Linked DNA regions of Homo sapiens. The protein of the gene in region 1 interacts with the protein of each later gene in a pairwise test. Each region holds a gene or a part of one and is shown on either strand. Other genes may lie near its edges. The genes, in order: GALNT12 and MLH3.

Region 1 (2,782 bases):
AAACAGGCAGAGTGAATAACAACATCAGTGAAAAACCTTTGTGATGTGCTGTTCACTAAATGGAACTTTTTTCATTCAAAAAAATCCAAACTCATGTTTTGTAGAATCCAAGAAATGACATTTCAGAGGTTTTTAGGCCTACATAAGAAAATACAAGGCTGGGCACAGTAGCTCACGCCTGTAATCGCAGCACTTTGAGAGGCTGAGGCAGGTGGATCACTTGAGGCCAAAGAGCTCAAGACCAGCCTGGCCAACATGGCAAAACTCCATCTCTACTAAAAATACAAAAAATTAGCTGGGCGTGGTGGCGGGCGCCTGTAGTCCCAGCTACTCAGGAGACTGAGACAGGAGAATCGCTTGAACCCAGGAGGCAGAGGTTGCAGTGAGCTGAGATTGCACCCCTGCACTCCAGCCTTGGTGGAGCAAGGCTCCGTCTCAAAAAAAAAAAAAAAAAAAAAAGATCCAGCCCTAAGAACTAAGCTTTCTATTATGGTCTAGTGAATATAAGTGGGGACATTTCCTTCAGAATTCACATATGTTTCTGTTCAATATATATTTGTTTTATATATATATATTTAGGGCATGACTGATGAAATATAATAAATCAAGCTGTATCCTTTTCACATATGAATCAAAGTATTAAGCGTCCTGAAGAAAGGTAAAAAATCCAATTCAGTATCCTTCTTCCCAGCCTCCTGAACAAACTTCCTTTTCCTTAAATGGTCACTGAAATTTAAGATAAAATTTTTGATATGTCAAACTGATTTTATTGTTTCTAGTGTCCACTACCATTCCTTGAGGGCTTACAATGGCTTCTGGTTGGGAGAAAGATGGGAAGAGGAGGACATTCAAGAAGATCAGAGACGTCTGGGGTGTGCAGAAGTATTTTTCCTTCTTATTTTCCTGTATTCAATAGGTAACACCATGGTGTGTGGCTTTTCTGGGCAGCCTGCAAATGTCATTGCTAGTGACAACATTTTTCTGCAGGAAAACATATTCCAGCTTTTAATCATCTTTAGAATAAACCCATTTATAAGCAGTATATTGGGAGTGAAAGCTGCCCAGGGAGATAAAAAACAATGAATTTTTTTCTTTCAAATGATTTTCTTTGGATTTATTCCCTCACATGCTTTTTAGTGAGTCAAAGGATATGATCGATTTACAAGTCCTGATGCAAGCTGACTGCAAGTGTGGTGGGGCCAGCACCCTCAGGTCTGAGGTAACCCTCAGTTTCAAATCAACTGTGACTATCCAGGGAGACTACTCTATCAGAGGTGTTTTCTTGGTTATAATACCACAAGCAACAACTAATCTCTATCGAGCTTTATAGTTTCCAAAGAATATTTCTGGCTATGCATCTAATCCTCAGTAAAGTAAGTCTGCTATTATTGCACCTTTTTTTTTTTTTTTTTTTGAGACGGAGTCTCGCTCTGTCTCCCAGGCTACAGTGCAGTGGCATGATTTCGGCTGACTGCAACCTCCGCCTTCCGGTTCAAGTGATTCTCCTGCTTCAGCCTCCCAAGTAGATGGGACTACAGGGGCATGCCACCACACCTGGCTATTTTTTTTTTTAAGTAGAGATGGGGTTTTGCCATATTGGCCAGGCTGGTCTCGAACTCCTGGCTTCGGATGATCCACCTGCCTTGGCCTCCCAAAGTGCTGGGATTACAGGCGTCAGCCACTGTGCCTGGCCTATTGTACCTATTTTAAAGCTGGGAAAAACAAGGCTTAGAGAGGTGGGGTGGCTTATATCTGGATCTAACACTTTGGCTAACATCCTTACACTTGGGCTATTTGGCTTACTCATTTAAAGCCCTTTCATCTCTGAATGCATTTGTAAGAGCTGTTTCCATGTCGGTGCCTGCAGCTCATGGGGGTGCAAGGGAAATGGAAAAGACTAAAAGGGACTGGACAATGAGGAAGGAAGGCAGTGCTAATGACACCGTGTGCCAGGGGACTCCAATCTCCTGCCATCACCGCCCCCCAGGCTCACTGGGACTGAGGTTCCAGGTCTTCCAGAGCTCCTGTCCATGCATGGCCACATCCCTGATCCTCACCAGGACTATGCCAGAGAGAACGTCTGACTCTCACACTCTCCCTTATAGCCCAGGGACTGTCAGCAGGAAGGAAGGAGAGAGTTCACCTACCTCCTGCAAGATGAACTTCTGATTCTCTGGGGCAGTTTCTTCGCAGAGATGCATGATAAGGGTATCCATTCCTGCTTCCACAGCAATGCAGCCCTCAGGCTGGTGGGTGTTATAGCGTATTTCTTTCTGGGACGTGTACTCGAAAAACTAAAAATGGGGCAGCCAACATGTAACACAACATTTTCCACTGATGTGGGAAGAGGAAAGATCGCTGGACAAGAACCTGGGATCACGAGAGCATGGGTGGGGTCATGCACCTGCGTCACCACCAACACGAGCCTGTGTGATGGGTTCCTCCGCATCCCACAGCCCTCAGTGAACCGCTACTGCAGTGCTTCATGAGCGTGGAGGAAATGGCCCTTCCCATGCCTGCCCAGCTTGCTAGACAGGGAGACAGGGCTGGTGCATGTCACCTCCTGCCTGCAGTGCTGAATGCTGTGTTGGTGTGGGATGGGAGGAAGGGAAATGGACCCATCGCAGCACTAGCTCTTGGGGGCTCTCTGTGACCTTGACTAGCTACTTCCTCTCCTTTTCCTCAGTCTCTCCTCCCAAACCCCCAATATGACAGTTCCTAGAAGATGTAAAGTGCTGTGCACAAGCAGACAATGTGACCGCTAACGGGAAGACTTGGTTCT
Region 2 (3,826 bases), on another chromosome or scaffold:
AGGGGCGAATCATATAGTGAGTCACAAGATAGGATATTTTTCCTCTTCTAGGCAGCACAAATTATTGAAAATGAAAAAGAAATTTCTCCCAATATGTTTCAGGTTTGGGAATATGATACTGCCAGTAAATCTTTTTTTCCCTATGACATAATTTATATTAGAGGCAGATCTATTTACTTACATCCCGTTAGTCAGGACTTCTCAATTCCTTGGGCTGTTAATTACCTCCCTGCTTTAATGCTGATTCAAATCACTCTCAGACCTTTTCTTCATGCCAGACTCCCTTAAGTGCCAGCAGCCAGAAGTTAGCAGTTCCTCAATGAAGAAAACACACTTAGAAACAAGACTTAGACACAGATTGATTCCCAATGGAAAAGAGAAAAACAATAAAGGTTACTGTAATTCAAAAAGGAAATTTGATAATAAAAAATCCCAAACACCCACACATAAGTGTGAGAAAAACAATACGGTTGTTAAGCCCTGTGGCAGCTTTTGAAAAACTATTAAGTAGTATTTGGAACCAGTAGTGAAGTGCAAATGAAGTAGCACTCTTTTTTTTTTTAACATTTGAGGTTATCTCTTTAGGTGTTACCACAAAAATCTGGAAGATCTGGGCCTTGAATTTGTATTTCCAGACACTAGTGATTCTCTGGTCCTTGTGGGAAAAGTACCACTATGTTTTGTGGAAAGAGAAGCCAATGAACTTCGGAGAGGAAGATCTACTGTGACCAAGAGTATTGTGGAGGTAAGACACAGCTGCAGATGTTAAGGAAATTGCTGAGTGATGGTAACCTCATATTTTGTCTGTAGATTCTCTGAATTCATCTTTTCTTCAACAAGTATTCATGGTATTTACCTGCGGTGTGCCAGGAGCTAGAAATTCAGAGATGAGTTAGCTCAAAATAAGGAAGAAGGGCATTTAAAGAATTATAGTCAGTGAACTTTGGCTAGTAGAGGTATGTGTTTTGCTTTCTTCCCAGTGATAAAGGTAATGAAAACTAAGAGTCTAGAATGCACCAAGATAGTTTTTCAGAAGTGTTATGGAAACACAGAATGACTTGTGTGCCTGGGGAGGTGAAGTCAATGAAAATGTCACAGAAAAGCTGTTTTCTTAAGAAAAGTTTTTACTTTTGAGAGACCAGGTCTCACTCTGTTGCCCAAGCTGGAGTGCAGTGGTGCAATCATAGCTCACTGTAGCCTTGATCTCCTGGGCACAAGCAATCTTCCTGCCTCAGCCTCCCAAGTAACTCGGACTACAGACACGCACCACCATGCCTGGCTAATTTTTTCCTTTTTTTTTTTTGTAGAGATGGGGGCCTCACTATGTTGCCCAGGCTGGTCCTGAACTTCTGGCCTCAAGCAATCCCCTTGCATTGGCTTCCCAAACCCCCGGCACTACAGGCATGAGCCACTGCACACAGCCAGAAAAGTCTTACAGAATAGTGGGAAACTAGGCTGGGCAAGGTGGCTCACACCTGTAATGCCAGCACTTTGGGAGGCCGTGGTGGGTGGTTCACCTGAGGTCGGGAGTTCGAGACCAGCCTGACAAGCATGGAAAAACCCCATCTCTACTAAAAATAGAAAATTAGCCGGGCGTGGTGGTGCATGCCTATAATCCCAGCTACTCAGGAGGCTGAGGCAGGAGAATGGCTTGAACCTGGGAGGCGGAGGTTGCATTGAGCCAAGATTGCACCATTGTACTCCAGCCTGGGCAACAAGAGTGAAACTCTGTCTCAAAAAAAAAAAGAAAAAAAGAATAGTGGGAAAGTGCTGAGTACAGAAGAGGGGAGAAGGGCATTCTAGACAGAGGAATACATATCAGAGACTTGAGATACATCCTATGTTTAGGGAACTATCAATAGATATGGCTCAAATTAAGATCTACAGTTGATCCTTGGATAACTTGGGTCTGAACTGCGCAGGTACACTTAAATGCAGATTTTCTTTCACCTCTGCCATTCCTGAGACAGCAAGACCAACCTTTCCTCTTCTTCCTCCTCCTTAGCCTATTCAATGTGAAAATGATGAGGGTGAAGACCTTTATGATGATTCATTTCCACTTAATGAATAATAAATATATTTTCTGTTTCTTATGATTTTCTTAACATTTTCTTTTTCTTTCTTTCTTTCTTTCTTTCTTTTTTTTTTTTTTTTGCGATGCCCAGGCTGGAGTGCAATGGCACAATCTCAGCTCACTGCAACCTCCACCTCCCGGGTTAAAGCGATTCTCCTACCTCAGCCTCCCAAGTAGCTGGGATTACAGGCGCACACCACCATGCCCCGGCTAATTTTTGTATTTTTAGTAGAGATGGGGTCTCACCATGTTGGCCAAGCTGGTATTGAACTCCTGACCTCAAATGATCCACCTGCCTTGGCCTCCCAAAGTGCTGGGATTACAGGCATGAGCCACTACGCCTGGCCAACATTTTCTTTTCTCTAGCTTACTTAATTGTAAGAATACAGTGTGTAATATATACAACACACAAAATATGTGTTAATCAACTGTTTATATTATTGGTAATGCTTCTGATCAACGTTAGGCTATTGGTAGTTAAGATTTGGGGAAATCAGGCCAGGTGCAGTGGCTCACGCCTGTAATCCCAGCATTTTGGGAGGCCAAGGCGGGCGGATCATTTGAGGTCTGGAGTTCAAGACCAGCCTGGCCAACATGATGAGACCCCGTCTCTACTAAAAATTAAAAAATTAGCCAGGCATGATGGTATGTGCCTGTAATCCCAGCTACTTGGGAGGCTGAGGCATGAGAATTGCTTGAACCCGGAAGGTGGAGGTTGCAGTGATCCAAGATCACTGCACTGCACTCCAGCCTGAGTGACACAGTAAGACTCCGTCTCAAAAAAAAAAAAAAAAAAATTGGGGGGAAATCAGAAGTTATACTTGGATCTTTGACTGGATGGGAGTTGGCTAGATGGGTTGTCAAGGTCAAATCATAAAATAATTTAGCATATTCTACTAAGTAGTTTGCATTTTATCCTATAGGCAGCCAGTGAAAACTTTTAAGCAGGAGAGTAAGGTCCATTTTAGATTGCATTCCAAATATGATTACTTTACATATATGTTTTGGTAAAGGTTTGGAAAGCTACTGCTGGGCTGTGGCATTGGAGGTATTAGAGAGAACTATTACTTTTTATTTTGATTACTTATATGTTTCTTTTTTTATAGCAAATATCATTTATTTTGTCTTTATTGTCTTTTTCCTCTCCTTTCCTGTTTTCTATTATAGTTTTCTGTATTTCTCTTTTTTTTTTTGCTCTACTCGTTTAGAAGTTATATATTCCATTTATATCCTTTTAGAGATTAGCCTTAACTTTTAGCATGCATACTTATCAAAGTTTAAAAGTAATTCACTTCTCTATCCTCTTCCTAACTGTACCAAAATCTTACAAACTGTTCATCTCCCATCACCCTCCTCCCATCTTCCATGTTGCTGTCTAGTACTTTAATTCCACCTTGTTTTTAATTCCCTGGTGGTCATTTATTTTATAGTCAATCTTTATTTAGATTAAAAAAAGTGTTCACCAGAGTCTTTGTTCACCATTGCCTCTTGCATCCTACTTATTCTGTGTTCTTTTGGGTTTTTTTTTTTTTTTTTTTTTTTTTTTTTTACTGAAGTAAATCTCTTACAAGATCTTTTATCCACAAACAGATCTTGAGACAAAAAATACAAAAATATAAAAATAAATAGAAGTTATTTTAGTAAGAGTCCGTGGGCCAGGCATGGTGGCTCATGCCTGTAATCCCAGCACTTTGGGAGGCCAAGGCGGGCAGATCACCTGAGGTCAGGAGTTTTGAGACCAGCCTGGCCAAC

What was found.
Region 2: the proteins of GALNT12 (region 1) and MLH3 interact in a two-hybrid assay, tested with the Homo sapiens proteins (one large-scale study listed by BioGRID and IntAct).

What each region holds. Positions count from the first base shown.
Region 1 is NC_000009.12:98,845,489-98,848,270, reverse strand, and holds part of GALNT12 (polypeptide N-acetylgalactosaminyltransferase 12), read right to left. Parts: intron 2,295-2,782; coding exon 2,148-2,294; intron 1-2,147. UniProt on the Homo sapiens protein: Catalyzes the initial reaction in O-linked oligosaccharide biosynthesis, the transfer of an N-acetyl-D-galactosamine residue to a serine or threonine residue on the protein receptor.
Region 2 is NC_000014.9:75,027,462-75,031,287, reverse strand, and holds part of MLH3 (DNA mismatch repair protein Mlh3), read left to right. Parts: intron 1-572; coding exon of another isoform or gene 573-585; coding exon 586-745; exon of another isoform or gene 746-746; intron 747-3,826. UniProt on the Homo sapiens protein: Probably involved in the repair of mismatches in DNA.